Linked DNA regions of Homo sapiens. The protein of the gene in region 1 interacts with the protein of each later gene in a pairwise test. Each region holds a gene or a part of one and is shown in the gene's direction. Other genes may lie near its edges. The genes, in order: ATOX1, CFAP410, FAM118A and COMP.

Region 1 (7,504 bases):
TTAAAATCTACCCATTTTATAAGTCTTTATAAAAGACCCCAGAGGCCATGAGGAACCAGAACTACCCAGTTATGCATCTGGTGGTAGAGCCAATCTTGAGATTCTCCTATAAAGAAGTGATTACTCTGTCCATGAAATAGATTTTCCATCACCCTCAAATTTATTTTTGCCCCTCAGAGGTGGAGGAGGAGAGCACTGAACTGTAATGTTTATACCCAGAAGCTGGTTTCTGGCTTCTGACCTTTATACTGTGGGGGATGGGACCTACTCCCTGTAGTCAGCGACAGAAAGTTTCAGGTATCTGTTGACTTTAGGTCCTTGGGCAGCAAAAAACTGTGCTCCCTAAAAATGTGTTTCTAGTTTCAGAGCTTCTGCTGAGAGTCAGGGTTATGAGGGCTGGCGGTGTACTTTGCTTTTCCAGAACCAGCAAGATTTCCCTGGAGCGAAGAAAGCCTAGGTTCATATTCCATACTCAGTAGTTATTTGCCACATGACTGCAAGCTACCTAGTGAACTCTTGGGAACTTCACTTTCCTCCTGAGTGAAATAAGATAAATAGCTCTCTTTCCAGGCTCAGTGAGGACTAACTTAGATACTGTACAAAGATAATTTGACATGTAATAGACAATCAGTAGATTTAGCTCTTATGTTGATCTTGCAAACCCTTCAAAGCTTTGGCTCAGTATATAAGTACAAACCATAGATGAATTGATTTTCTGCTGGTTATCCTAGAGCAAGACTCAGCAAACTTTTTTTTTTACACGGCACCGATAGTAAACATTTTAGTCTTCACAAACCATAGGGTCTCTGGTACAACTACTCAACTCTGCCATTCTAGTGCAAAAGTAAACAAATGAGTTTGGCTGTAGTTTTTTGTTTTTGTGTTTCTTTTTTTTTTTTTTTTTTTTTGGACGGTGTCTCGCTCTCTTGCCAGGCTGGAGTGCAATGGCATGGTCTTGGCTCACTGCAACCTCCGCCTCCTGGGTCAAGCGATTCTCCTGCCTCAGCCTCTTGAGTAGCTGGGACTACAGGCGCATGCCACCACTACCAGCTAATTTTTGTATTTTTAGTAGAGATGGGGTTTCACCATGTTGGCCAGAATGGTCTCGATCTCTTGACCTCGTGATCCTCCCGCCTCAGCCTCCCAAAAATGCTGGGATTACAGGCATGAGCCACCACACCTGGCCCGATTTGGGCTATGTTTTAACAAAACTCTTTGTAAAACAGGTAGTTTGTAGTGTGCCAATCCATGTTCCAGAGCATCATCATTTTTTTTTCCAAAACAATTTTTTTCTTTTAAATTAAATGGAGCCATGATCTCACTGTATTGCCCAGGCTAGTCTCAAACTCCTGGGTTTAAGTGATTTTCCTGCCTCAGCCTCCTAAGTAGCTGGGATTACAGGCACCTGCCACCATGCCTGGCTAATTTTTTTTCTATTTTTAGTAGAGAAACAGGTTTTGCCATGTTGGCCAGACTGGTCTCAAACTTGTGACCTCAGGTGATCTACCTGCCTCAGCCTCCCAAAGTGTTGAGATTATAGGCATGAGCCACATTGCCCAGCCTAAAAAAACTTTTTAATAGAGGAGAGCATCATCTCAGACTGTAATGTGGGGAGGAATGACTTGGGTGTCTTGTTAAAATGAGGATTCTGATTCCGGACTTCTGGGAAGGGACCTGAGATTCTGCATTTCTGACAGGCTCTCAGGTGATGCTCATATTGTTGGGCTGAGGACCACATTTTAAAGACAAGATTTTGTAATACTTACTACAAATCCTTCTTTCCAGAATCTGTTATTGTTGCTGTCTGTGAATAGTCAGGAAACAAGATGAAAAAATCAGAGATGTTTAGAAGAAAGGAAAGACTGACCATTTTCTTTAAGACAGATTTTGCAGATTTGGCCTTAATAAAAGGAGTGGTTTACTAGTCACAAAGGTCAAACAGTCTGCACTGGAAAATCGAGCTGCTTAATTCTTGGTCTTCGTTTCCTCTGTAGAGCACAGTGACAATCCAGACTCAGCGGTGTTTAGAGACTTGGAAAGAGTTTGAGAAGCCACTTAGCCACTTTATTTTCAGGTTTGTAGTTTTGCCTCCCGTTCTCTCCCCAGTAGGTTAAAAATGGGGAGTGGCAGGGCCCGCTCCACATCCACAGAGTCAGTTGAGGCAGGTGTCTGGGAGCTGCACTTTCCACAAGGTCCCCAGATTCTTCCTATGCACACTAAAGTTGAAAAAAATTGAGTTAGCTAATACCCTTTTGGTATAGATTAGGGAACTGGAGCCCTTCTGGAGCAGAGATTTTGCCTGTGGTTTTCTAGCAAGATATATCACTACACCCAGGATTCCAACTGAGGTAATAGACTTCAAATATTTTGAAGTGCTCCATGAAAAATGTAGCCATTGATTTTTGAAGGGAAACAGGAGAGACAAATGGAAGAAATTAATAATCCAATAGCTAACCTTTTACCCAACGGAACCTAGTACTAGGCTCTAATTTCCTTAATGTGTTAGTTATCTATTGCTCCTTAGTAATTATCCCAAAACTTTGTAGTATAAAACAACAAATATATTTATAGTAACTCACACAGTTTCTGAGAGTCAGGAATTTGGGAACAGCTTGGCCTAGTGGCTCCAGCTCAGAGGCTCTCATAAAGCTGCAGTGAGATGTTGGCTGGAGCTGCATTCATCTGAAGGCTTGACTGGAGCTGGAGAATCCACTTCCAACATGTCTCACTCACATGCTTGTTAGCTCGAGGGTTCAATCTCTCACTTTGTGGACCTCTCCTTGTGGTTGCTGGAATTTCTTTGTAATTTAGTAGCTGACTTCCTCTAGTGCAAGTGACCCCAGAAATGGAGCAAGACAGAAGTCACAGTGTCCTTTATGACATTGTGATAGCTTCAGAAGCCACATAACCTCACTTCAAGCCATATTCTATAAGACACACAGACCAACCCGAGACATGTGGAATGGGATTACTCAAGGGCATAAATACCAGAGGCAGAGATCATTGAGGCCATCTTGGATGCTGGCTAACCGTACTTAAAATCCTGTGTTCATCCCATTCACAAATCTAGAGAGGGACTCTTACCCTCAATTTTCAGATGTGGAAACTAAGGCACAGAGAAGTAACATATTGATGATCATGCAACTAGTAGTGCCAGAGCTGGTATCTGAAGCCATATTTATCTGATTTCAGATGGTCTCATTTCCAGAGATTTTAAAATAAAGTATTGGTATAAGTAATCCTTGTGTGAAAGCAAAGCAAAAGATCCAGAAGTTCAAACCAGCCATGTCAATTATCCATTGACTCAAAAATAAGTTTTAAGCACCTACTCTGTCCAGGCACTGTTCCAAGTATTAGGAATCCAGTAGTGAACTGAACAAAACCTCTGTCTTCTGGGAGCTTACCTTCAGACCCTTGATCTGTTAGATATCCTAGAGACTGTAGAATGTAGAGCTTACATGAAGACTAGGAGCCGGGGATCCCTTCCTGCCTGGCCTCCAACCCACTGGGGAACCCAGGCAATCCTTTCTTTCCCTGGACCCAGATGCTGCCTCTGAGAATGCGGCCCTTGGATGAAAGCAGAATCACCTGGGGTAATGAGTAGACATAACAGATTCCCCAGCCCAGACCTGCTGACCAGAACCTGTAGTTTTTGCAAGCTGTAGGTGACTCTAGTGCAGAAAATAATTTTGTGGTTCATAAGTGGGCCCACCAGATCAGCATTGCTCAGAGTATGGGGGCCCATCCCTGTCAGAGTTACTGGTGGCCCTGAGACAAAGCTCATAGCTCAAGAATCAGTGTTTTGAAGGTAGGACTGGGAAAAAGCATTTTAAACTAGATCTCCAGGTGATTCTATTTACTATGTGCCAGACACTGCTAAAGGATTTATAGGGATGATTCCATTGAATACAACTTGTGAGGTAGAAACTCTTAGCTACTCTATAGTTGAAGAGACGGGCTCAGAAACAGGCTTCTGATGAGTCTGATGCCAACCAGGTCCTGCCCAGTCTCTCTGTCTTCTGTCTTGACCCTGAGTGGGCCTGTCTGCTGGCACTGTGTGGGGGTCACTCTACAGGGCTCGGGTCATGGTCCCCCTGTGTTTGTTTCAGAAGCACGAGTTCTCTGTGGACATGACCTGTGGAGGCTGTGCTGAAGCTGTCTCTCGGGTCCTCAATAAGCTTGGAGGTGAGTGAGTGGCCCTGAGTTGGGTGCACTTATGCCATGTTCAGATGCATGCAGATGTTGCAGGAGAGACTTAGGGTTAAGCTGATCATAACAGTAAAACTAAAATATATTGAGTACTTAGCACGTGCCAACTACTCTTGTTATTTTCTTAGTGGCTTATGTGAATCACATCATTTAATCCTCACCACGGCCATTTCAGATAGTTTTTTTTTTACTAGCTCCATGTTAAACAGGAGACAGCTGAAGTTCAGAAACATTAAATAACTTATCTGGGATCACATGGTCAGTAAATGGCAGAGCTGGGATTTAGCCAAATTAACTAGTACTGCCAGGAGTAGCTCTGGAGCCATGGCAGTACTAGTTCATATGTTGGTCATCTCCAGTGTGTACTGCATGACACATCTGAGTGTCATTTTCTATTGAATTTTTTTTTTTTTTTTTTTTTTTGAGACAGAGTTTCGCTCTTCTTGCTCAGCCTGGAGTGCAATGGTGCAATCTCGGCTTGTTGCAACCTCCGCCTCCCAGGTTCAAGCAATTCTCTTGCCTCAGCCTTCCAAGTAGCTGGGATTACAGGCATGCACCACCACGCCTGGCTCATTTTGTATTTTCAGTACAGACGGGGTTTCTCCATGTTGGTCAGGCTGGTCTCGAACCCCTGACCTCAGGTGATCTGCCCGCCTCGGCCTCCCAAAGTGCTGGGATTACAGGCGCGAGCCACCCTACGCAGCCTCTATTAAGGTTTTTTAAATGGGGCTGGGCACGGTGGCTCACACCTGTGATCCCAGCATTTCGGAAGGCTGAGGCGGGCAGATTGCCTGAGCTCAGGAGTTCCCGAGACCAGCCTGGGCAACATGGTAAAATGCCATCTCTACAAAAAATACCAAAAAAATTAGCCAGGCATGGTGTTACATGCCTGTACTCACAGCTAATTTAGGGGGCTGAGGTGGGAAGATCGCTTGAGCCTGGGAGGTTAAGGCCACAGTGAGCCTAGATCGTGCCACTGCACTGCAGTGGGGGCAACAGAGCAAGACCCTGTCTCCAAAAAAAAAAAAAAAAAAAGAAAGAAAAAAAGGAAAGATTTAAAAAAAGGTAAAAATTTTTAAAATTTTGTCTTTTTCTGTTTCTTTACTTCAAAAAAAAAAATTTAAATTAATTTTGAATCACTCACATGCAGATTTTTTTTTTTTTTTTTTTGAGATGAAGTCTCACTCTGTTTGTTGCCCAGGCTGGAGTGCAGTGGCATGATCTCAGCTCATTGCAGCCTCTGCCTCCTGGGTTCAGGCGATTTCCGGTGAATTTTTGTACTTTTCATAGATATGGATTTCACCATGTTGGCCAGGCTGGTCTTGAACTCTTGACCTCAAGTAATCCGCCTGCTTTGGTCTCCCAAAGTGCTAGGGTTACAGGCATGAGCCACCGCACCTGGCCACATGCAGATATTCTTAAAGCACCTCTTTTGAACAATCAGTCTCATCCAGCCTTGTCATTTTACAGCTGGGGAAACTGAGGCCCAGAGAGGACTGGGATCTGGTCCTGGGACTCAGTGAGGTAATAACTGAGTTGTGATCAGAGTTTTGGCAATGCCAGTGCTCAGTCAGCCTTCTAAGATTTTTTCTTTTCTTTTTCTTCCACATGAACTATCACACAATCTTCTAAAATTTTCTTTTTTAAAACCCTAAATAATAATGACATTAAGTTTTCAAATGGCTTCCACATGGACGTGATCTCATTAGCAGTCCTCTGAGCTGTACTTTCCATCTTTGGAATGGGGATGTCGATGCCAGTGTCCAGGAGGTTAAGTGACTTGCCCGTAGTCCCGCAGCAAGTCAGTGGCTGGCCTCTAGCCCTGTAAACTGGGATCTTAATCTGAAAGAAACTGAAACAGTGGAAAGAACCTAGCTGCTGACTTGTCATGTGACTGTGGGCCCTTCTTTCTCGGGCCTGGGTTTCCCCAGCTGTGGTATGGGAATGTATATCTTGTATGTCTGTATCAGCTTTTGCTGTTGATGCTTTTTTTTTTCTTTTTCTTTTTTTTTTTTTTTGGAGATGGAGTTTGCTCTTTCACCCAGGCTAGAGTGGAGTGAAGTGGCATGATCTCTGCTCACTGCAACCTGCTCCACTCTGCCCCGGGTTCAAGCGATTCTCCTGCCTCAGCCTCCCGAGTAGCTGGGATTATAGGTGCCCGCCACCACGCCTGGCTAATTTTTTTTTTTTTTCTGAGGCAGAATTTCGCTCTTGTTGCCCAGGCTAGAGTGCAATGGCGTGATCTCAGCCCACCGCAACCTCCACCTCCCAGGTTCAAGCGATTCTCCTGCCTCAGCCTCCTGAGTATCTGGGATTACAGGCTCAGGCCACCATGCCCGGCTAATTTTGTATTTTTAGTAGAGACGGGGTTTCTCTATCTTGGCCAGGCTGGTCTCAAACTCCTGACCTTAGGTGACCTGCCCACCTTGGTCCCCCAAAGTGCTGGGATTACAGGCGTGAGCCACCGTGCCCAGCCTGTTGATGCTTTAAAAATGAAACTGTACAGGAGCTCCTCAAATACAAAGCAGCAGGCTCTGGATGAAGTGGGGATGGGCCTAATTTCGTTTGACAGCTCAAAGACATCTACCCATCCCAGGAACTTCATCCAGGCTGGAGTGCAGTGGCGCGGTCTTGGCTCACTGCAGCCTCAACTTCCCAGGCTCAAGCCATCCTCCCACCTCAGCCTCCTGAGTAGCTGGGACTACAGGACCACACCCGGCTATTTTTTTGTTTTTGTTTTTGTTTTTTGTAGAGACAGGGTCTTGCTTTGTTATGCAGGCTGGGAAACCATATGTTTTGTTTGTTTGTTTGTTTGTTTTGAGAGGGAGTCTCACTCTGTCTCCCAGGCTGGAGTGCAGTGGCATGATCTTGGCTCACTGCAACCTCTGCCTCCCAGGTTCAAGTGATTCTCCTGCCCCAGCCTCCCGAGAAGCTGGGATTACAGGCACATGCCACACACTGAGCTAATTTTTGTATTTTTAGTAGAGATGGGGTTTCACCACGTTAGCCAGGCTGGTCTTGAACTTCTGACCTCAAGTGATCCACTCGCCTCAGCCTCCCAAAGTGCTGGGATTACAGACATGAGCCACCACGCCTGGCCAACCATATGATTTTTAAGGCCCCTTGCTGGAAGATCTGCCTTTAAGCTTCGGCAGGTTTCTGCCCATCTTTTCCTACTGTCCCTGCTTGGGTGGCCTCTTGAGAAGGGTCAGGAGGGTTTTTTGAGTTGCTTATGGCCCTAAAAGAACAGTGGTAGGGCTGAGGAATCACAGACTGATGGCATCCTTGAGCTGGA
Region 2 (7,466 bases), on another chromosome or scaffold:
GTCCCCACAGTCTTTTTTTTTCTTTTTTTCTGTGCAGTGGCGCAATCTCGGCTCACTGCAAGCTCCGCCTCCCGGGCTCACACCATTCTCCTGCCTCAGCCTCCCGAGTAGCTAGGACTACAGGCGCCCGCCCCCATGCCCAGCTAATTTTTTTGTTTGTTTTTTGTATTTTTAGTAGAGACAGGGTTTCACCGTGTTAGCCAGGATGGTCTCGATCTCCTGACCTCGCGATCCGCCCGCCTCGGCCTCCCAAAGTGCTGGGATTACAGGCGTGAGCCCCCGTGCCCAGCGGTCTCCACAGTCTTTTATCTGAACCTGAGCATTTCCTTTCTATGGATCCCAGGTCTTTAGACAAACTCAACCGTCAACCAGAAAATGTTTAAATTCACCGATAGCCTGGAAGCCCCCACTTTGAGTTGTCCCGCCTTTCTGAATCAAACCAACGTATTTCTTAAATGTATTAGATTGCTGTCTCATGCCTTCCTAAAAAGTAAAAAACCAAGCTGTGCCCCGACCACCTTGGACACATGTTCTCAGGATTTCCTGAGGGCTGCGTCACGGGCCATGGTCATTCATATCTGGCTCAGAATAAATCTCTTAAAATATTTTACAGAGTTTGACTCTTTTTGTCAACACCACGATATAGAAGGTTAAATAAAACCCATCTGATGAGAATTTATGGTTTGTAGGGCATGACTGTCCATGCCCTTTAGGAATTTGGGCAAGATAAAAAAAGAAAAATCAGAGTTTAGTCCTCAATTACTTCAAGGCCGAGAGTGAGTTCTGGCCTTGAAGTAATCTTGTTGGAGACAGAATGAGGTGTCCGGTCCCTTTCAGGAGCTGACCCCTGAAGCTTCCAAGCAAAGAGATGACCAGATAAGTGAGCATGGTGTGTGCTTAACAGGCATCCAGGTAAACTAAATGTGCATAAGGCCTGAGAGCACAGGATGGGAACGGAGTGGAGGTTCACATTCCCAGGCTGTATTTCAAGATGGAAGGTAACACAAGCAGCTTGTCTCAGTTACATCTTCAGACTAGGGTGGAGGAGGAGGAAAGGGGAAAGGGGAAAAAGTTTTAAAACATGGTTTGAGGCTTAGCTGTGTGAAAGGAATATAAAGCTCAAGACCTTAAAATCACTAAGTCAAGGGAAAAGTCAGCTGGAAAATGCATCAGGCAAACCTGCCTCCAATTTTATTCCTAAATAAGATCGCTACAAAGATAAAAAGCTATGAAGCTCCCTCACAATTTGCCCACAAGGAAATTCCTTGTGGGCCTCAAGATCTTTACCCTCAAACAGTTCTGTTGAATTTCACCCTGGAATGTAAACTGATAGCTGATCTTCACAGGTGTGGGACAGGAGGTCATCCCCCTGCTCACCGGAGACACATGCCTATCTGTTTGCTTTCTCTGCCTTATTGTTTATGTAAAAATGCAGATTTACTAAGCTAGACCAAATTGTGTATTCAGTGAAAGGACTCAAAAGAATGCAATCTTTTGTCTCTTATCCACCGATGACCTGGAAGCTGGAAGCCTCCCTCCACCCCCACAACCCCACCCGGCCTTCAAGGTGTCCTGCCTTTCCAGACTGAACTAATGTACATCTTTTTTTTTTTTTTAAGACGGAGTCTCGCTCTTGTTGCGCAGACTGGAGTGCAATGGCACAGTCTCGGCTCACTGCAACCTCTGCCTCCCGGGTTCAAGCGATTCTCCTGCCTCAGCCTCCAAAGTAGTTGGGATTACAGGCGCCCACTGTCAGGCCTCTGAGCCCAAGCTAAGCCACCATGTCCCCTGTGACCTGCACGTACACATCCAGATGGCTGGTTCTCGCCTTAACTGATGACATTCCACCATAAAAGAAGTGAAAATGGCCTGTTCCTGCCTTAACTGATAACATTGTCTTGTGAAATTCCTTCTCCTGGCTCATCCTGGCTCAAAAGCTCCCCTACTGAGCACCTTGTGACTCCCACTCTGCCCGCCAGAGAACAACCCCCCTTTGACTATAATTTTCCTTTATCTACCCAAATCCTATAAAACGGCCCCACCCTTATCTCCCTTCACTGACTCTCTTTTCAGACTCAGCCCACCTGCACCCAGGTGAAATAAACAGCTTGATTGCTCACACAAAGCCTGTTTGGTGGTCTCTTCACATGGACACGAGTGAAACCCACCACCGCGCCCAGCTAATTTTTTGTATTTTTAGTAGAGACAGGGTTTCACTATGTTGGCCAGGCTGGTCTCGAACTCCTGACCTCAGGCCATCCACCTGCCTCAGCCTCCCAAAGTACTGGGATTATAGGCGTGAGCCACCGCGCCCGGCTTAATGTACATCTTATACATATATTTTTTCTTCTTTTTCCATCTTACACATATTGATTGATGTCTCATGTCTCCCTAAAAATGTATGAAAGCAAGCTGTGCCCCAGCCACCCAGGGCACATGTCATCAGGACCTCCTGAGGCTGTGTCATGGGCTTGTCCTTAACCTTGACAAAATAAACTTTCTAAACAGATTGAGTCCTGTCTCAGATATTTTGGATTCACAGCTGCTAAGCTGCTCGGTTACAATTGAAGGCTCATGGGTTAGGGGTTGTTCAAAGGTAGTTTGGTGAACAGGGGGCTAGGGCATGGGGAGTGCTGATTGGTTAGGTGCGAGATGAAATCTAGCTGTCCTTTTGGTCCTTTTGTGCTGCATGGCTTCTGGGTGGGGCCACAGGAGCTGTTGGCAAGACATTTAGCTGGATCCATCCGTGTGAGACATGCAAGAAACCTGCAAAGGTACAATAGTGATGTTACCTGCAGGAGTAATTGGGGAAGTAGCTTATCTTGTGACCTCCAGAATAATGGCTGACGAATGTTTACATCTGCATCTTAGTGGAATTCATGCTCCTCTATCCTTCTAGGCTGGTAGTGTAACCGCCCAATGGGTTCGCCTTGCCCACTGCCTAGACAGAACCGATTTATCAAGGCAACGGAATTGCAATGGAGAAAGAGTAATACACACAGAGCTGGCTGTGCAGGAGAGCAGAGTTTTATTATCACTCAAATCAGTCTCCCCAAGCATTCGGGGATCCGTGTTTTTAAGGATAATTTGGCGGGTATGGGCTCAGAAAGTGGTGAGTGCTGATTGGTCAGGTCGAAGATTAAATCATAGGGGGTCAAAATGAGTTCTGGCTGACTTCTGTCCCTGGGTGGGATCACACACATGGTTGAGCCAGATTATCCGTTTGGGTGGTGTCATCTGCTGCATCTGAATGCAGGGTCTACAAAATATTTCAAGCACTGACCTTAAGTTTTGCAACAGTGATGTTATTCCCAGAAGCAATTTGGGGAGGTTCAGACTCTTGCCGCCAGAGGTTGCATGGCCCCTAAACTGTAATTTTTAATCTCGTAGCTTAATTTGTTAGTCCTACAAAGGCAGACTGGTCCCCAGGCAAGAAGGGTTTTTTTGGGAAAGGGCTATTATCAATTTTGTTTCAGTTTAATCTATAAACTAAATTCCTTCCCAAGGCTAGTCTGGTCTACACCCAGGAATGAACAAAAGCAGCTTAGAGGATAGCAGGAAGATGGGGTGGGTGAGGAGATCTTCCCCTGTCATAATTTCTTCAGTTATGATTTTTGCAAAGGCGGTTTCAGTGGTCTCATTAGCTTTACAAAGGCTGTTTAGTTTTGAGGAAGGGCTGCTATCACTTAAACTATAAATGTCTCCCAAAGTTACCTTTGCTTATCCAGGAATAATTAAGGGCAGTTTTAAGGCCAAAGGCAAGATGGGGGTTGGCCAGATCTCCTTCAAGGCCAACCTTCTCTCACCGATACAATTTTTTGCAAAGGCGGTTTCAGAACGTCAGAACGCCTGTCTTAATGTAACTGTGGCCCATGTAACGATGTTTAGAGGGTCTTATCTGATTTCTAAAAGGTTGAAATGCTTGTAAGGGCTCTGCTGGACCTGCCCGTGCGTCTTTCCTATAAATGCGTCTTTTCTGTAAATGCTGGGAGGGAGGGAGACAAGGAATCAACACAGCCCCAGGGCTGCCCTGGGTTTATTCCAAGAGTTTGAATCGCGTAACTTGGAGCTGTGTAGCGCCCATGCCATCCACGCTAGGCCTGCGCTCAGAGTCAGGCCTAGGCACTCGGCCATGATGCGCGTCGGACCGAGCCCACCCCGCTCGGTTCCTGGGAGCAGCAGTTCAGCCCTCACTGGGCCGACTCGGGGACCGCCACCTGCACCCACCCTCTGCTCGCTGCGCGCTTCCGGGGTCGCGTTAGAATCGCGTCAGAGAAGGGCGCCCCAGGCCGCGCATGAGCAGGAGCAGAGCCAACGTGTCAGCGGCGCCCAAGCGGCCCCAGCGGGCTCGCGTCGCCCCGCTCTCCTCACCGAGCCGCCAATCGGCTCAGGATCCGCCCCTGACGACGCGGGCCCCGCCCCTGGAGACACGCGCCGCGCAGTCGTCACCCGCCCGGGATCAGGAGGCCGGGGGCGCCCGCCGGTCGGGCCTGGGCGGCCGCCATGAAGCTGACGCGGAAGATGGTTCTGACCCGGGCCAAGGCCTCGGAGCTGCACAGCGTGCGCAAGCTCAACTGCTGGTGAGGCGGGGCCTGGCCGCGGCCGCCCCGGGGTGGGGGGAGGAGCCGGGGCGGGGCGAGGGCGGAGCCGGAGGGAGGAGCCGGGGCGGGGAGAGGGCGGAGCCGGAGGGAGGAGCCGGGGCGGGACGAGGGCGGAGCCGGAGGGAGGAGCCGGGGCGGGGAGAGGGCGGAGCCGGGGCGGGGAGAGGGCGGAGCCGGGGCGGGGAGAGGGCGGAGCCGGAGGGAGGAGCCGGGGCGGGACGAGGGCGGAGCCGGAGGGAGGAGCCGGGGCGGGACGAGGGCGGAGCCGGAGGGAGGAGCCGGGGCGGGACGAGGGCGGAGCCGGAGGGAGGAGCCGGGGCGGGGCGGGGCGGGGGCGGAGTGGAAGGGGGGAGGGGCAGGGGCGAGGGCGGCGAAGGAGCCGCGGGTGAGGGAGGGGAGGAGGCCGGGGGTCGGGGTCGCCTGGGCCCCCCCCCATTTCCCGGCCCGCCTTTGCCCCGGGTGCCCTGTGGGCTGGGTCTGTTGTCTGGGGTTGCCAGCAGTCACTGGGACCAAGTCGAATAGGAGAGAGAACTGAGCTTTCCAGGACTGAGTCAGGAAACACGTTGGTAATCAGTACTGGGGGCGGCCGTTCCCAGGGTACTCCTAGCAGGTGACAGGAAGGGACGTGGGTGCGGTGGGACCCAGGCAGGCTGAAAGGCAGGTAATGCTGAGTCTCACTGAGCCAAGGAAGACCAGGAGCTTCCAGAAGAGGGAGCCTGGAGTTGAGGCCTGCAAGATCTCCAGGGTTCCCTGGGGACTCAGCAGAGTGACCGCGCCGTGTCAACTGGCCTCACCGTGCAGGCGGGTGTGGGGGTCAGCGAGAGCAGACGCTTCCTCCCAGGGGTGTCCGCAGACTGCCCAGAGTGAGCTCTTCCCTGTTAATTAAAAAGCTTTTCTCTCTGCCCTGGCATATCTGGTGTTTTGGCTACAATTCCCGTGTCATTTGCTTTCAATAATGCATTTCTTTGTTTTGCATGGGGTGGTCAGTACTCCCACTAAGCTGGGAGAAACAACAACCCTGTTTCAGGCTTTTAAAGTTTGCTTCATAAGTTGCCTGTTCACCCTTTGAACTTGACCTCTTATAAAGACGCCCTTGTTTATGTCTGTCAGTGAGAGAAATGAACCTTCTGCTACTCAGGGACCATGAGGAAGAGTTCATCTTTTTGTGTCTTACAAATGGAGCAACCCTGCTGCTCCTTATCTAAAAAGTACCACCCCAACGTCAAACATACAGTTTAGTTGAAAATCAGCTAAAACAATTGTTTACACCTTTGCCAGTTATCTGGGCAACCTTCCTTTTTTGCCATGCCATTAAAATCCTAGAATCTTAAGGTTTGTAGGGAGTCATCGGTGATTTTTGGAATTTTTGTCTTCAGTGTTTTTTATTCAACTTTAACAAAATTAAAGTATGTATCTTTTCTCTCCCCAGGGGCAGCCGCCTCACAGATGTAAGTATTGCCTCACAGATGTAAGTATTGCACTGATCATCTCCAAATAGCCTCAACCCAAATGTTGTAGCTTCTTTCCCAAGAGAATTTTTAAGTTGACAAAACTGCACCTATCAATTCAGTCCCACACTTGGTACTTTGTTCACTTAGCGGTTTTCATTCTGCAGAACCACTAATGGAAAAACAATTCTCTAGTGCCAGGCTTATTTTGCAGTTCCCGTCAACATCCCTATAAATGAAACACCCTTTGTCACTTGGTCGCAGAGGAGGGGAGCAATAGTTTGGAACTTGCTCTCACCTGGAAAGGAATCCCAGGAGGGCTTGTTTTACTTTGTTACGGGGAAGTTGAAGGTCTACACCCCCTCTTCTTGGTCACATCTAGCCTTGTACCCCCTTGCCGCTGCCCCAAAGGCAGGCAGAGAATAAGCCCTGCTGGGAGAACTTGAGTGTGTGCGTCTGTGAAAGATTTTTTTCTTCTCTCCCTCATTGTCTTTCTCAGTCCAAAATGTCCCCAACTTACACAGGGATCGCATACCAATTGTTTCTTTCTTTTTTTTTTTTTTTTACACGGAGTCTCTCTCTGTTGCCCAGGCTGGAGTACAGTGGCACGATCTTGGCTCACTGCAACCTCTGCCTCCCGGGTTCAAGCAATTTTCCTGCCTCAGCCTTTGAGTAGCTGGGACTACAGGCACCCACCACCATGCCTGGCTAATTTTTGTACTTTTTAGTAGAGATGGAGTTTCACTGTGTCGGCCAGGCTGGTCTCAAACCCCCTGAGTTCAGGTGATCCACCTGCCTCAGCCTCGCAAAGTATTGGAATTACAGGTATGAGCCACCATGTCCAGCGCAATTATTTATCTCTTTATTTTCCTTTGTTTTTTTAATTTGAACTGTACCTTTTCTTAAAGACAAAAAAAAGCCTGGATACGTGGCATCTGGGTGTAATCTGTTTTGTGCTGTAACTGAAATACTGCATGTTTAGCAGTGAATATACAAACGTACCATGTCCATAGACACGAGTCACTTATACATGGGACGCATCTGACCAGGCTGTGAGCTGCTGGTGCCATGCCTGGCGTATGGTGGGCTCTCACATATGTGGGAGCTTTGCAGGTTGTGAGGCTTTGTGGACCACCCCGGGCACCTCACCCCTGAATTGACAGTACCAATGTGATCTGAGATCCAGTCTCAAGCCTGTCTTCCTTTTGGCCTAGACCTGTTATCAAGAAGGGATTTCCATCCTTTCCTTGCTTTCTATCCCTGCGTAGGGGACATTGGGGTCCCCTTACCTGATGTCCTTTGAGGGCATCTAAAGTAATGAATGCTCTGTCTCCACTGCTGGCAGCATCTGACAGCAACGATGCTGTCGTAAAATTTAATAAAGACAGAGTGCGTGCAAGGAGGAGCCTCACATTTC
Region 3 (7,504 bases), on another chromosome or scaffold:
CAGGCATCTGTGAGCCTCGTTTTCTTTGCCTGTGGACTGTGATTTCTTAGCATTTGGGGTAAGGTCGCAGACATGTTTGGGAGTTGATGGAAGCTGTGAACTCTCCCTAGGAAAATATATGCATGGACTTAGGTAGTTGTTTACATTTTCAAAGGATAACGGGGATCCCATTTAGCTCTGCGATCTAATGATGCTTATGGACTGATTAAGCCTTGTTTCCTTACCCTGGAAAATTACTTTTGATGACCTGATTCTAGTGGCTGGGTGTGTGTGTGTGAGTGAAGATTACACATGTGAAAAAGTGATTTTTCAGCCAGTTGCTGTGGCTCATGCCTGTAATCCCAGCACTTTGGGAGGCCGATGCAGGCGGATCACAAGGTCAAAGATCGAGACCATCCTGGCTAACATGGTGAAATCCCGTCTCTATGAAAAATACAAAAATTAGCCGGATGTGGTGGCGCAGGCCTGTGCCACTGCACTCCAGCCTGGTGACAAAGCGAGACTCCATCAAAAAAAAACAAACAAACACGTAATTTTTCTTTTTCTTTTCTTCCTTCTTCTTCTTCTTTTTTTTTTTCTTTTTAAGACAGGGTCTCACTCTGCGACCCAGGCTGGAGTGCAGTGGCACAGTCGTGGTTCACTGCAGCCTCAACCTCCTGGGCTCAGGTGATTTTACCATTCAGCCTTCCAAGTAGCTGGGACTACAGATGAGCACCACCACATTGGCTAATTTTTGTATTTTTTGTAGAGATGGGGTTTCCCCATGATGTTGCCCAGGCTGGTCTTGAAATTCTGGGCTCAAGGGATCCTCCCACCTCAGCCTCCCAAAGTGCTGGGATTACAGATGTGAGCCAGCGTACTCTGCCAAAGTCATTTTCAGTCAGTGCTGGTTTGGATGTGGCAAAGCGAGCACTGACGTGTTCTGCTGACCACTTTTCTGGAAAGCGGTTTGGTGGTGTGTGCTAAGATATTTTACAGTGTTCATACTCTCTAACTCAGCAGTTCTTCTCAGAAATCTCTCCTAAATAAATAATTTCACAATATACAGGCTTTGTGCACTAAGTCGGTGGTCAGGGTGTTATACTAACATTCTGCATCAGACATGTGTCAGTAAGAGAGAATTCCATATATATACATTACACTTACATTTATGAATAGTTTTTAATAACATAAAGGAGATGTATTTATTTTAATGCATGAAAAAGTAGGATATGCACTGTGTTCTCAAATTATGTCAATACTTTTGTTTGTTTGTTTATTTTTGAGACGGAGTCTTGCTCTGTTGCCTAGGCTGGAGTGCAGTGGCGCGATCTCAGCTCACTGCAACCTCCACCTCCTGGGTTCAAGTGATTCTCCTGCCTCAGCCTCCCTTGTAAACATTTTTAAAAGAGAGTAGAGGGAATATATAAATGTTAACAGTTACTGCTCACAGGTCATAGGATTATAGGCAAAACCTTATTTTTCTGTATTTTTCCTTGCTTACAGTAGATATTATTTCTAGAATTGGGGGGAAACGCGATTTTGGAAAATTTTTATTTTTTATTTATTTTTTATTTTTGAAACAAGGTCTCACCCTGTTGCCCAGGCTGGAGTGGAGTGGTGTGACGTGGCCATGGCTCATTGCAGTCTCAACCTCCCAGGCTCAGGCGACCCTCCCACCTCAGCCTTCCTAGTAGATGGGACTACAGGCATGCACCACCATGCCTGGCAAATTTTTTTATTCTTTGTAGAGACAGGATCTTGCTGTATTGCCCAGGCCGGTCTTGAACTCCTGAGTTCAAGCAGTCCACCTTGGCCTCCCAAAATGCTGGGATTACAAGCATGAGCCACCATGCCTGGTCTGATTTTGGAAAAATTAAAGAATATGGAGATAGCTTGGTGAAAGAGACCCAGATGGTTTGGGATTTCTGTTTTTATATAAGGTAAGAATTGGCTTTTTACTTGGATGACTTCTTTAGAGTGGATTTCAGTAAGGCCGAGGGGAGGGCTGGTGCCTTGGAGCTGGTGCCGATGCTGAGGATGGCCATGCTCCAGTCCAGTGCTCTGCACCTTAGAGCACTCGTTGGCTTCCTCTGCAAAACCGCCTCTGGCTTCGCTTTGTTGTGCCGCTTGCTGTGTTTTGCTTCTCTGATAAGTCATCTGTGTTCATGTGCACTGGAAATTCTTCTAGAGCAGTGTCCCAAGAGACAGCGAAAACCCCAGCTCGGAGCCCACAGAGCCCATCCTTCATCTGCTCCTGTGTGTGCGTTTTCCTTCTGTGCTGTCCCGTGTAGAACAGCGAGAGTCCAACCAGCCTGATGAGTCTCATGAGATGAGGAATGGTGGCTTAGGAAGCATTTTGGATGTACGTCATTTGCGTATGACATTTTTCAGATATTATAATTTAAGTAAAGATTGAGGACCTTTGATTTTAATTCTAGCCTTAACTATCTTCCAGGGTGCAAATAAAAACTTTTACCTGGGAGACAGAAGTCACTTCTGACTAATTTTTCTCTTTAGAATTCACAGATGGATTCAGTGGAAAAGACAACAAATAGAAGTGAACAAAAATCCAGGTAATTAAAGGCAACTATACCTTCAAGCAGCTTCATTGACTTCATCTAGCGTCTCTCGTGAGTGTGCGCACTCGTTCTTTAGTACCTGCAAGGGCGAAAGTGAAATGGAAACACTGGGGCATGAGAGAACCTCGAGGGCCATTTTCCACCCTTGGCTTCAATGTAAGGAACGTTCCAGAAGGCAGCTTTCTGCCCAGTCTCCAAACCAAGCAACATGTCATTAGAGGTGTCATGTCTAGAACTGGGAGTGTCAGGCTTCCTAAGAAAGAATTCTTTGACTACAGATGGACAGCAGCTTGTGTTTGCTATAAAGTGAAGCGCGATAAAGAGGTACTTACTGTTGGGATTGGTGGGTGGCAGGAAACCAGCATTTGCCAGTAACTGTCTTATCCGTCACTGCAAGCAGGGGTCATTTTGTCATCATCGTTTGTATTCATAACCTGTGTGCAGCTTCAAAGGAATGATATGTATCACTTAAATTGAGCTTAACACTGGGCAACTTAAAATGCATGAGACACAGCTGTCCCACGTCCTTTAAGGAATAAGGGTAGAACATGTGAAATAAATACGCAAAGAAGGATACACAGGCCGTCTCCCCACAGCGTCAGAGGGGACTGTGTGTGTGTGTGTGTGTGTGTGTGTGTGTGTGTACACAGCACAAGGCCGGAACTCGCAGACAGTTCCAGACTTTGTGTTTGCAATGTTTCCGCTTTGACTTTCATTCTCTTGCTCCCTTCTTTTCAAGTAGAAAGTTTTTAAAAAGCCTCATCCGGAAACAGCCCCAGGAACTGCTCCTGGTTATCGGGACTGGCGTCAGCGCAGCAGTGGCCCCCGGAATCCCTGCCCTTTGCTCGTGGAGAAGCTGCATCGAGGCCGTCATCGAGGCTGCAGAGCAGCTGGAGGTGCTGCACCCCGGAGACGTCGCCGAGTTCCGGAGGAAAGTGACAAAGGACCGGGACCTGTTGGTTGTCGCCCATGATCTGATCCGGAAGATGTCACCTGTAAGTGTCAGACAAGTACCTCTTGGGGACAGCTTGGTTCTGCAGCAGGTTGGATGAGTCTGTGAACCTAATGTTAAACTCTGCAGGCCTAACTTGTGTTCAGTGCTCAGCAGAGTCGGGCTGATGAGCCAGAAATCCTTGAGTCCATCGGGGTGTCGTCTTTTAAAATTGAGGGGATGCCAGCCACACTGCAGCGTGGGGCTCCTAAAGTAGCTCCTATTAAATGGAGCCTGACTGTGTGAGATCGTCTCAGGGAGATTGTCCAGCTGCACTCAGTATGAACTTTGTGATTGTATATTCACTTAGTGAAGGGATATCCCTTAGGCGTGTTTGGTGTAAGCAGGCCGGCCATATTTCTTCAGATGACAGGTGCTTCCTAGAAAACATCTGAAGATGGGAGAAGTTCCAGCTTCTTTGTCTGCTGCAGAGATGATCTAGATGATCTAGTTGAGAGGAGAAGCACTGATGATTCAGGAGCTATTCCTGAGCGAGGCCCTGGGGCCGATGGGTCTGGTGCAGGGGAAGGTGCGTGGCAGGCCATTGTTGTCCCCGTCAGCTATGGCGTGTGGCCATAAAGGCTGGGAAGCTGGACCCTATGGCTGGGGCTCTTGGCAGTCATTGTCTTCTTCTGCTCTTGTATTTACTGAAGAGGCACAGTCACCATCTGAGAGTCAGGACGGGAGGAGATGTTGGACGTTTGAACAGAGGAGAGAGCACGAAAAAAAGTGAGCTCGTCACCAAGGAGAGTGGGAGAGTTGAGGTTGGCTGTGAAAGGAGACCTTAAACCACATGGCTTCATGTGAGCACCTTTATAATCCCCACCTAGAGACCCGGGTGGGCAGCCCAAGGAGAACATGGTGGCCGGGCAGGGCCCCTCTTTGCTGGCTCTGCCACCCTCAACAGGCAGCTTCCGTCGGGTGCCCTGCGGGCAGCTGTAAATGATGTGCGTGCGCGGGGAGTGCGTGGAGGAGGGAAGTGCGGGGAGGGGAGGAAGTGGGGGGCTTCAAGGGCCACCACTGAAGTCACATACACCGCTTCTGTTTCATCTCATTGGCCAGAGTTTTAGCTAGGGCTGCACCTAGCAGAGCTTGGGAAATGTTTTTAGTCAGGTGACTCTGCCACTCATGGGTGTTCTATTAATAAGGAACACCTTTCATCACAGGCCAGGGGTTGGAAATGTACAGCCTTGGGCCTGTTTTTGCAAATGAGGTTCTGACAGGCGGCCACACCCATTCATTTACGTATAGTACGTGGCTGCTTTCATGCCTCCAGGCCCAGGTGAGTAGTTGGAACAGAGACTTTCTGGCCCACAAGGCCTAAAATACTTCCTCTCTGAGGCAGGGGCGCGGTGGCTCACGCCTGTAATCCCAGCACTTTGGGAGGCCGAGGCAGGCAGATCACCTGAGGTCAGGAGTTTGAGACCAGCCTGGCCAATGTGATGAAACTCTGTCTCTACTAAAAATACAAAAATTAACCTGGCGTGGTGGCAGGCGCCTGTAATCCCAGCTACTCAGGAGGCTGAGGCAGGAGAATCGCTTGAACCTGGGAGGCAGAGGTTGCAATGAACCAAGATTGTGCCATTGCACTCTATCCTGGGCAACAAAAGTGAAACTCCATCTCAAAATATTTTCTCTCTGGCCCTTGTAGACAACATTTGCTCACCCGTCATAGGAAGAAGAAGGGAGGAGTCGAAGGGAGGCCAGGGAAGGGTAGTGGGGTCGCTGGGCAGCACTGAGGGCCCTTGTTGTCCTTCAGGTGAAGAGAGACTGTTTGTCTAGAATGAGAATCGTTTGTCTTGAAAACAAGTAGTTGAGCATCATTCAACTCTTCTGTTCACTTTTGCGTGTTTTTGAAAACCTCCATCAGGAAGCGTTGAGGTGAGGCTGTCGACACAGCTGTGTTGAGAGTCGGAGAACAGGCATGGGGGAAGCTGAGAGTTGGTTGCATCAGGAATTCCAGCAACACCAGAGAAGGGTGAGGGGCTTGCAAGTGTATTGGGGGAAGTTGTAGTGATCCATTGTAGACTCTAAGCTGCTTGATGGAAGAAGGCAGGACAGGACAGCAGGGCAGCTAGTGACTGGTCAGTGATAGTGGGGTCAGTAGCTCACGGGCCTCAATGGGCTTGAAGTTTCCCTGGGAGCCAGGGTGCTAGAGAGGTGGGCAGATGGGAGGGAGTGGTTGGACAGGGGAAGCTGGCCCAGAGGTTCTGGAAAGGATCCAGGTCTTGGTAACGATAAGGCCTTGGGGGCTGTATGTGTGGATGGCTGAGATGGACCAGGACTATTGGAGGAGAGTGATGGCTGGAATTTAGAGGCCATGATCCCAGGGAGAATCATCCAAGCGGACATGAGAATCACCCCAAATTATGACGGCACAGCTGGAGAGACTCAGCCCTCACCTTCATCGGTGCAGGGAGTGCAGGGGAGCCCCCAGGAAGGGTCTCAGGGATGCATAGAGCCAGGTCTCAGGTCGGGGAGAAGGTGAGCATTCCCAGGAGATGATGGAGATGTGGGGGTTGGCTGATGGCAGACCCCCTGGGAACAGTGGGAGGGTTTGGGTGGTGGGAGAGTCAGAAGAGCTGTGGCGATGAGTGGGAACCTATGAGTCTTGGTTTTCTTGTGCCGGCCAAGCAACACGAACAGGCACAGAGGGCGAGGGGAGGTATTTTGATACCCAGGTGCCGAGGCAGAGGGTGACAATGAGGCTGGGAGCCGGGCAGAGGGGACCCTGTGTCCTCCTGAACCCGCCCCCACCCCGCCTCTCTGTCCCCTCCCAGCAAAGCTCTGCAGCATGGTTGCTGCATCTGCTGTCACCAGCCCTTCCTTTTTCTCTTGAAGCCATCCCAGCCAGGCTTTGGCTGTCAAGGCCCCTTGGAGACAGCTCCTGTCAAGGCCACCGGTGAAACACTGAGGCTGCTTCCGGAGGCCAGGCCTCAGTCCTGATCCTCTTGTGTCTCTCAGAGTATATGCGGCACTACGGGCCAGGTGTGCTGGCTCATGCCTGTAATCCCAGCACTTTGGGAGGCCAAGGTGGGCAGATCACTTGAGGGCAGGAGTTCAAGATAAGCCTGGGCAACATAGCGAGACCTCGTCTCTACAAAAAATAAAAAAAAATTTAGGCCGGGTATAGTGGCTCACGCCTGTAATCCCAGCACTTTGGGAGGCTGAGGCAGGTGGATCACCTGAGGTCAGGAGTTTGAGACCAGCCTGGCCAACATGGTGAAACCCCATCTCTACTAAAAATACAAAAATTAGCTGGGTGTGGTGGTGCGCACCTGTAGTCCCAGCAACTTGGGAGGCTGAGGCAGGAGAATTGCTTGAACCAGGAGGGGAGGTTGCAGTGAGCCAAGATCACGCCACTGCATTTCATCCTGGGTGACAGAGCAAGACTCTGTCTCAAAAAAAAAAAAAAAAAAAAAAAGTTAAAAAATTAACTAGGTGTTATGGTGTGTGTGCACCTATAGTCCCAGCTACTTGGGAGGCTGAGGTTGGAGGATCACTTGAGCCTGGGAGATCAAGGCTGCAGAGGGCCGTGATCGTGCCACTCACTGCACTCCAGCCTGGGTGACAGAGTGAGACTCTGTCTCAAAAAATAAAATAATAAAATGAAAAATGAAATAAAATAATATAAAAAATTAAATTAAAAAAATTTTTAAAAAATATAATGAGTTGGGTGTGGTGGTGGCACCTGTAGCCCTAGCTACTTGGGAGGCTTAGGTGGCAAGCTCGCTTGGGCCCAGGAGTTGGAGGCTGCAGTGAGCTATCCTGGCACCACTGTGCTCCAGCCTGGATGACAGAGCAAGGCCCTATCTCAAAAAAAGAAAAAGAAAAAAGAAACACTGCCTCCCGCCTCATTGAAGGTGCCACGAAGACACGCTGTTTCATTACCACCGAGAAAGAGAAAACTGGGACTGTGCAGCGCTCAGGGAAAGCCAGAGTCTTTACAGTG
Region 4 (8,412 bases), on another chromosome or scaffold:
TACAGACGTGAGCCACCACGCCCGGCCTCTGGTGAAATTCTTTCTCTCCTGAAGCAACTCTTCAGTATAGTAACCTGAGAAGTAAAATTTTACATTATAAGAAACTTTCGAAGGTGGCAAAAAAAAGAAGAAGAAATAAAGGAAAAAAGAAGAAACTGAGGCACAGAGAGGTTAAGCAACTTGCCTCATGTACCACAGCAGAGCTGGGATATGAAACTCAGGCTCTGATGCCAGAGACTGAGACCTTCATCACTGTGCCCCACTGTCTCCCATGATGACAAATTCCTGCCTTCTGGGACTTAAGGGATGACAGAAAGAGAAAACCCACAAAGGCTGAGTGGTAAGGTTTCAAGCATTTGGCACTTGCTCAAGAAAACTGTAGCCACTGTATTTATTGTTGTCTTCTTCCTTTATCGCCATCCAGTAGAGCCTGGGATGCAATGGGGGTAGGGACTGAGTAAAAGGAGAATGGGGCTGGGTGCAGTGGTGCACATCTGTGATCCCAGCACTTTGGGAGGCTGAGGTGGGAGGATCACTTGAGCCCAGAAGTTGGAGGCTGCAATGAGTGAGCTATGATTGTCACTGTACTTCAGGCCAGGCAACAGAGCAAGACCCTGTTTCAAAAAAAAAAAAAAAAAAAAGGAGACTGGGAGAGGAGGTGGCACCTGCCAAAGGTCACACGGCCAGTCGGGGGGCGTCTCCTGGACTTCAAAGCTCAGAGCCCCCCATCCCACCCCTGCCTTTTGTTCCTTCTAGAGAGATGCCTCCAGTACGTCTCTCCCAGTTCAAGGCAGGCTGAGGATGCAGAGGTCGCCAAGCTGCCCTCCCCTGCCGCCCTGATGAATTCCGCAGACTGGGGGCCTACAGCCCGGCCCGCCCAGGGCAGGGCGGCTGCCTTCACAACATACTTTCCTTCTGCATTCACAAAGGCAGGCAACGGTGGGGGCGGGAGGCAGGGAGCCGGGGCGCCCACACGTCTCCTGGCTGAGCAGACGTCTGCCAGGAAGGGCCCCGGGGCCCCATCATGCAGGCACCCGTCCCTCTTCCCCAGCCTGGCCGGGCTCCTGGAACCACGGGGCCTGGTGTGGGGCTGGCTGGGGCGCCGGCCAGATGCTCTGGCCAGGAGGTCCTGGGCCGAGAAGACATCCCAGTTAATGAGGGGCTCGGGCCAGCGAAATGCTGGATTCTGTTTCTGTGGCAAGGACAGAGAGGGCGGGTATGAAGGGCTTGAGGGTCTTGCATGCCTCAGTTCTAATTCTGGCTGTGTGACCTCAGACTGTCTCTTCTCCTCTCTGAGTAAGATAGAAATAAGAACGATCTGAGGTATAAGCGACAGGCACAGGGTATAAGTTTTTTTGTTTTGTTTTGTTTTTTTGAGACAAGGTCTCACTCGGTCGCCCAGGCTGGAGTGCAGTGATGTGATCTCGGCTCACTGCAACCTCTGCCTCCCCGGTTCAAGTGATTCTCCTGCCTCAGCCTCCCGATTAGCTGGGATTACAGGCACGCGCCACCACGTCCAGCTAATTTTTGTATTTTGAGTAGAGATGGAGTTTCACGTTGGCCACACTGGTCTCGAACTCCTGGCCTCAGGTGATCCACCTGCTGTGGCCTCCCAAAGTGCTGGGATTATAGGTGTGAGCCACCACACTGGCCCACGGTGTATAAATTTCATATGGAATAAGCACGCTAGTAGCGCTGGAGCTGGGCGCTGGGCTGAAGGATTTCCATGGGTCAGCTCATTCAATCCTCTCAACAGTGATCATCCTCATTTTATGGGTGAGAAAACTGAAGCACAGAGAGGTTAAGTGACTTGTCCTAGGTCACACAGTAAGGCCATGCTCACCAATATTTGAACCCAGGCTGTGTGGCCCCCTTCCCTGCCATATCAAGTACAGAGGTGGCAGGGGTTACTAGGATTCATATGATAATGTTGGCTGGGTGCAGTGGCTGAAATCCCAGGGTTTTGAGAGGCCGAGGAAGGAGGATCTGTTGAGCCCAGGAGTTCGAGACTAGCCTGGGCAACATAATAAGACCCCCATCTCTATTTTAAAAAAAAAAAAAAATAGTAATGACATTACATTAATTATAAAAAGTAGTAATGGCCAGGCGCGGTGGCTCACGCCTGTAATCCCAGCACTTTGGGAGGCTGAGGCAGGTGGATCACCTGAGGTCAGAAGTTCGAGACCAACCTGGCCAACATGGTGAAACCCCGTCTCTACTAAAAATATAAAAAAATTAGCTGGGCGTGGTGGCAGGTGCCAGTAATCCCAGCTACTCAGGAGGCTGAAGCAGGGGAATCACTTGAACTCAGGAGGCAGAGGTTGCAGTGAGCCGAGATTGCACCATCGCACTCCAGCTGGGCGACAAAAGTGAGACTCCATCTCAAAAAAAAAAAAAAAAAATAGTAATGAACACGAATCATAGGGATGCTGTCCCGGCTCACCAAGCCCTCCAGCCTAACCTTTCTACACCAGTCCAGGCCCCTGGGTGGGAGCCCCTCAGGCTCGGAGGGACAGAGCAAACCACAGACACTCACAGTCCCGAGGATCATGGCTAGGCTGGAAGGTTATCTGGAGAATATCAGCAGGGAAGGCTTCCTGGAGGAGGGGACATTATAGCTGGACCTTGAAGGATGGAGGAGTTTGTACGAGGTGGGGGGAACAGCAGGTACAAAGGCCCAGAATGACACCTACAGTGAGTTATTCTGTAATCTGAGGCAAGTGTGGTGTGCACAGGAGGAGGGGACTGCTGCCTAGAAGGGGGATTTCAGGGCTGGCGAGATCCAGGAGGCAGGAGTGTGACCCCAGACATCCCCTTTCCGGGCCTCTGTTGTCCGATCTTGGGACACCCTCAGGAACTCCACCTTTGTAGTTCCCTCCGCCTGGAATGCCCTTCCCTGCAACTCCCCGTGGCCCAGCCATGGATAAGGCCACGTGTGTCCAAGCCCCAGCACTGTGACCAGCCTGTGGCAGGGGCCTGGCTTCCATGTGCTCCTGTCCTAGCTGTGTGCAGCATATGCCAGCCCCCAGGCCCCACTGGAGCTGTGGTTTTCCCGAGAATTCCAGTGCTGCCAGGAGCGGCCCCCAGGTGTGCTGAAGGCCAAGGAAAACAGGAGGTGAGCTCATGGCCCCAATGTAGGCAGCAGGCAGGGCAGGCACTATTGAGGACAGGCTTCATTGGAAATGCTCTGGCTGGGACCAGCTGCTTCCACCAACACTCCACTTATAGGCCTGTCTCTCTTCACGCACTCTCTGTGGCTCCCCATTACCCTCGGGAGACCACTGGAGCCCCACACCACCAGCACTGCCCTTTCACACACAGCCTCATCTCCTGCTTCTCACTGAGCCCCAAGAGCTTGTCACCTTGAGGTCAGTCCATCCAACGGGCCAGGTTGGTTCCTGCCTCAGGGCCTTTGCCTATGCTGTTTCCTCTACCTGGAATGACTTTCTGCTACCTCTGCCTGGCTGTGTCCTCCTCATCATCCGGTCCTCAGCTTGGTGGTCCCTCCTCCTCCAGAAGCCCGCCCTGACCCATCCCCTTTCAAACAGATCAATTTCCTGGGGACTCCTACCATTGTCTGTGTGTCCCGTCACAGCCATGAGCCCACTGGGCTCCCCATTTGAAGGAGAGACTGGGTCTGGCTTCTTCACCCTGTGTGCCCATCACCCAGCACAGGAGACATGACACACAACAGTCCTTGATGTTTGTGAAATAATTATTGTGTCTAGAAATGTCCCCACCTCCAAGCTTCACATGCTTCCCTCCACCAAAACTGCCCTCACCTTTTCCCTCTGCTGATCCAAGTCCTCCTTTTCTTTTATGTCTGTCTCCTTGCTACCTCCTCCAGGAAGCCCTCGGTGACTTCTCTGTAGGCTCCCCAGAAAACATATCTGGCTCTGAGTCTAGATTCACCCCTGCCCTCGGGCAGTGGCCTTAGGCCAGTCACTTTTTCTCTCTGGGCCTCAGTTTCTCTGTCTATAGAATAGACGCTGTGAGTACTGGAAGGTGGGAGTGGAGAGTGTTAACTGATTGCAGGAGGTTAAGGGGTTTTGTAACTCCAGAGTGTGGCTGGCCAGTTAGCGGTAACTTTTATTTTTATTACAGGCTGTTCCCACAGCAGCTGGAGCACAGTTTGGAAGGTATGGCACAGCCTGGACAAACAGAAGCCCCGGACCTCCCCTTGCTAGAGCCCTTTAACTTGCTCCCCTCCAGATGGGGGCCTCACACCCCATTGCGCAGATTGGAAAACCAAGTGGGCCTGTCCCCTTGGACAGGGGTTGGGGCAAGATCCTGAACGCTGTCCCCTCCTCCACCAGCCGAGGGACCATGGGGAGGGGAGGGAACACCAGCAATGAGTTGGGTTGGGGGGAGTCATTTGCAGCCCTCCAGCGTTGGGGCCAGAAGCGGCCTCCTTGGACAGAGGCAGGAAAATTGAGAGTCCCAGGTCTCAACTGCCCCTCCCCTATTTTCCATTCATCATCATAATCATCATTACTATTAATCATTAATTAATAATTATTAACTTATTACCTCCATTGTGCAAGGGAGGAATTACGCCTGGGTAATTTTTGTACTTTTAGTAGAGATGGGGTTTCACCATGTTAGCCAGGCTGGTCTCAAACTCCTGACCTCAGGTGATCTGCCCGCCTTGGCTTCCCAAAGTGCTGGGATTACAGGTGTGAGCCACCGCACCCAGCAACTTACCCAGTTTTGAAGCACTTCAGGAGGAGTGGAGGGCCAGTCAGTCTGATCCATAGTGGGTGGACCTATTTTTTCAGACGCTGGTGACTCTGTTTCCCGAAGTGTGAGCTGAGAGCGTGGCCATGGAGCCTGCCTTGTTTGGAACTGGAACTCAGGTTTGGCATACAGCAAGCACTCAATCAATCAATCAATCAATGAGCTGAATGCTATGGCTGGATCCTGTAATCCCAGTTATGTGGGGAGTATCGCTTGAGGCCGGGAGTTTGAGACTACTAGCCTGCAGGACATAGCCAGACCCGGTCTCTAAAAATAAAAATAAAAATAAAAATAAATTAGCTGGACTTGGTGGTGCGGGCTTGTAGTCCCAGCTACATGGGAGACTGAAGCAAGAGGATGCGATACAGCCACACCCCGTCACACACACACACACACACACACACAGACGCACACACACAGTGAATGAAAGTGGGGGCAGTACCCCCTGACTCCCTGCCCCACCAGCTCTCTCCACAGACCCCGGGACTCAGTTTCCCCACCATGTCGGATTCAGCCGCGGGCGACTTCGCGGGGCATTCCGGGCGGGGACTTGAACGCAGGGGCCAGCGCCATCTGTTTACCTTGAGGCTGGACGTTGGGCAGGGCTGTGGTGGGCCGTCCCTGGGGCCGGCCGTGCCTTGGGGATAAATAGGCCCCGCGGGCCTCGTGGGCGGTAGAAAGCGAGCAGCCACCCAGCTCCCCGCCACCGCCATGGTCCCCGACACCGCCTGCGTTCTTCTGCTCACCCTGGCTGCCCTCGGCGCGTCCGGACAGGGCCAGAGCCCGTTGGGTAAGCCGCGTTAGCACCCGCGCCGTGCCCACGGCCCCACAACGGACTGTAGGACCCGTGAGAGGCCCGGGATCCAGGCTGTTTGGGGCTCACGGACTGTTCGTAGGGGACGTGCCGGGCGCAGAAAGCAGGTGGCGGGACCGAGACTAGAGGAGCGCAGTGGGGCCTCGGAGGTCCGGGTTCGCTGCAACGGTGGGAGTTGGTGGTGGGATTCCCCGGCCCCATGACGCCTCACCAGGTCCCCTGCCGCCGCAGGCTCAGACCTGGGCCCGCAGATGCTTCGGGAACTGCAGGAAACCAACGCGGCGCTGCAGGACGTGCGGGAGCTGCTGCGGCAGCAGGTGCGGGGCCCGGGTGCGGGGCAGGGAGTGCCAGGGAACGGAAGGGGGTCTCAGTTCCCAGCGAGGAGAGAGGAAGTACCCGAGAAGGTGGAGAGGAGATGGGGAGGGAAGGGGGTCGGCGGGTAGGGAGTCCTTGGCGAAAAGAGGCTGTAGAAAGGGACCCCGGGGTAGAGAGAGGGGAGACCCGAGGGATGAGGAGAGGTTGGGACCCCGCTGATTCCATCCCACCCCTGCAGGTCAGGGAGATCACGTTCCTGAAAAACACGGTGATGGAGTGTGACGCGTGCGGTGAGCGCGGCGGGGCGGTCGGGAGAGAGAAGAGACGGGAGACAGAGACACAGAGACAGAGACAGAGAGCCAGGGAAAGCTGGGGAGGAAAAGAGACGGAAGGAGATGGAGGCTGACGGAGAGGTGGACGGACGAACGGGAATGGGATGGGGTGTGTAGAAACAGAGACAAAAAGAGACAGAAGCGGTGAGAGAGTTTTGGGGAAGTGAGAGACGCCACGGGGCAGAAAAGCGGGACAGAGACTCAGAGAAGAGACCGGGGAGACCCCGCGGTCAGAGCGCGCAGCCTCTGGGGCGGGATCGCGGACAGCGCAGGATTTCGGGCCGCCCCGGGGCGGGGGGTGGGGGGGAAGGGGAAGCCTCCAGCCCCGGGGCGTGGCCATGATAGGCTCTGCCCCCGGGCGAGCCACCGATCAGCCCCGCCGCTTCTCCCCCCTCCCCCCCGCAGGGATGCAGCAGTCAGTACGCACCGGCCTACCCAGCGTGCGGCCCCTGCTCCACTGCGCGCCCGGCTTCTGCTTCCCCGGCGTGGCCTGCATCCAGACGGAGAGCGGCGCGCGCTGCGGCCCCTGCCCCGCGGGCTTCACGGGCAACGGCTCGCACTGCACCGACGTCAACGAGGTGCGCTAGCCCCGACACTCCACCGCCCTGACGACTCCCTCTACCGCCCCCCAATCTCTCGCCGCCCGGGAGACCCCTTCCTCCACTGGGAGTGTTCGCCCCGAAGAGCCTCTCACCTCCGGGGGCGCACGGCCAGACTACCTCCTTACCGCGGGGGGACGCCCAACCCAAGGACCATCCCCGTCACCACCCGGGACGCCCGCCCCCACAACCCCCTACATAGCTAGTGACGCCCGCCCCGACGACTCCCTCACCGCCAGGGGTGGTCCGCCCCAGCTACCCTCCTCGCCGCAGGGGATCGCCAGTCCCAACGACCCTTCCACAGCCAGGGAACGCACGCCCAGACCCCCCGCCACCGCCGGGCACGCACGCCCCGACGACCCCTGCCCCCCTCTGCTGGGGATGCCCGCCCTCATCCTTCCTCCCCTCGCCCATGAGGGAACAGCTCTCCTCTCCTCTCCCGGTTGCGCCCTTGCCGTCATCAAGGCAAAGTCGTGCCTGACCCCTGCGACAATTGCTTCCATCTCAGAGCTCCAAGCACTGGCATATGGCCCTTGAACTTTCCACATCCGAGACACTACGAGGTGCGGCCCCCAGGGCCCAGCTCGAAGCCCTCTGACCCTCTGTGGCCCCTCCTCCCCCAGTGCAACGCCCACCCCTGCTTCCCCCGAGTCCGCTGTATCAACACCAGCCCGGGGTTCCGCTGCGAGGCTTGCCCGCCGGGGTACAGCGGCCCCACCCACCAGGGCGTGGGGCTGGCTTTCGCCAAGGCCAACAAGCAGGTGAGAGGTGTGGGGGCCCCATTTTTGGAGCAGAAGGGAAGGGGGCGTCCATTTTGTTTACCAGTAAACTCCTCTTCCAGCCTCCTTCCAGCGGGAGGGGTGGGGAGAGGAGGGGTCCGCTGCGCCAGGGCTGATCGGTTTGGGGCAGGATGGAGGGGAGAGGCAGGATGCGGAGGAAGTGTGGAGGAGGTGGGAGGTCCGGAGGTGTCTGCGTGGGGTGGTGACCTCTGAGTTCCCCTCCCCTAGGTTTGCACGGACATCAACGAGTGTGAGACCGGGCAACATAACTGCGTCCCCAACTCCGTGTGCATCAACACCCGGGTAAGGCCCGCTGGGGAGGAAGAAAGGATCGCGGGAGGTGGGGCGAGCGGCGGGCGGCCTGCGCTGACCTCCGGCGGCTCCGGCGCAGGGCTCCTTCCAGTGCGGCCCGTGCCAGCCCGGCTTCGTGGGCGACCAGGCGTCCGGCTGCCAGCGGCGCGCACAGCGCTTCTGCCCCGACGGCTCGCCCAGCGAGTGCCACGAGCATGCAGACTGCGTCCTAGAGCGCGATGGCTCGCGGTCGTGCGTGGTGAGTGCGGGCGGGCTGGGCTTGAGGCGGGGTTGGGTGGCGGCCACTCCAGGGCACCCACTTACACTCTCCCACAGTGTGCCGTTGGCTGGGCCGGCAACGGGATCCTCTGTGGTCGCGACACTGACCTAGACGGCTTCCCGGACGAGAAGCTGCGCTGCCCGGAGCGCCAGTGCCGTAAGGTGGGTGGGGGCGGAGCGGGGCGGGCTTGGGCAGGAGGGAGGGCGGGACTTCATGACCGCGCCCCTCACACCTTCTGTGCCCGCCCCCAGGACAACTGCGTGAC

What was found.
Region 2: the proteins of ATOX1 (region 1) and CFAP410 interact in binary tests that used the Homo sapiens proteins (3 or more experiments, as listed by UniProt).
Region 3: the proteins of ATOX1 (region 1) and FAM118A interact in binary tests that used the Homo sapiens proteins (3 or more experiments, as listed by UniProt).
Region 4: the proteins of ATOX1 (region 1) and COMP interact in binary tests that used the Homo sapiens proteins (3 or more experiments, as listed by UniProt).

Annotation. Positions count from the first base shown.
Region 1 is NC_000005.10:151,748,385-151,755,888, reverse strand, and holds part of ATOX1 (copper transport protein ATOX1), read left to right. Parts: intron 1-1,766; exon of another isoform or gene 1,767-2,216; intron 2,217-2,579; exon of another isoform or gene 2,580-2,809; intron 2,810-4,109; coding exon 4,110-4,185; intron 4,186-7,504. UniProt on the Homo sapiens protein: Binds and deliver cytosolic copper to the copper ATPase proteins. May be important in cellular antioxidant defense.
Region 2 is NC_000021.9:44,336,232-44,343,697, reverse strand, and holds the start of CFAP410 (nuclear encoded mitochondrial protein C21orf2), read left to right. Parts: upstream 1-4,307; 5' UTR 4,308-4,503; coding exon 4,504-4,580; intron 4,581-4,995; exon of another isoform or gene 4,996-5,265; coding exon of another isoform or gene 5,266-5,464; intron 5,465-6,030; coding exon 6,031-6,049; intron 6,050-6,777; exon of another isoform or gene 6,778-6,874; intron 6,875-7,466. UniProt on the Homo sapiens protein: Plays a role in cilia formation and/or maintenance. Plays a role in the regulation of cell morphology and cytoskeletal organization. Involved in DNA damage repair.
Region 3 is NC_000022.11:45,319,872-45,327,375, forward strand, and holds part of FAM118A (protein FAM118A), read left to right. Parts: intron 1-1,730; exon of another isoform or gene 1,731-1,821; coding exon of another isoform or gene 1,822-1,922; intron 1,923-2,170; exon of another isoform or gene 2,171-2,175; coding exon of another isoform or gene 2,176-2,344; intron 2,345-2,499; coding exon of another isoform or gene 2,500-2,508; coding exon 2,509-2,555; intron 2,556-3,300; coding exon of another isoform or gene 3,301-3,303; coding exon 3,304-3,556; intron 3,557-4,205; coding exon of another isoform or gene 4,206-4,340; exon of another isoform or gene 4,341-6,605; intron 6,606-7,504.
Region 4 is NC_000019.10:18,788,306-18,796,717, reverse strand, and holds the start of COMP (cartilage oligomeric matrix protein precursor), read left to right. Parts: upstream 1-5,412; 5' UTR 5,413-5,448; coding exon 5,449-5,527; intron 5,528-5,782; coding exon 5,783-5,868; intron 5,869-6,104; coding exon 6,105-6,156; intron 6,157-6,603; coding exon 6,604-6,776; intron 6,777-7,420; coding exon 7,421-7,558; intron 7,559-7,804; coding exon 7,805-7,879; intron 7,880-7,967; coding exon 7,968-8,126; intron 8,127-8,203; coding exon 8,204-8,308; intron 8,309-8,398; coding exon 8,399-8,412. UniProt on the Homo sapiens protein: Plays a role in the structural integrity of cartilage via its interaction with other extracellular matrix proteins such as the collagens and fibronectin.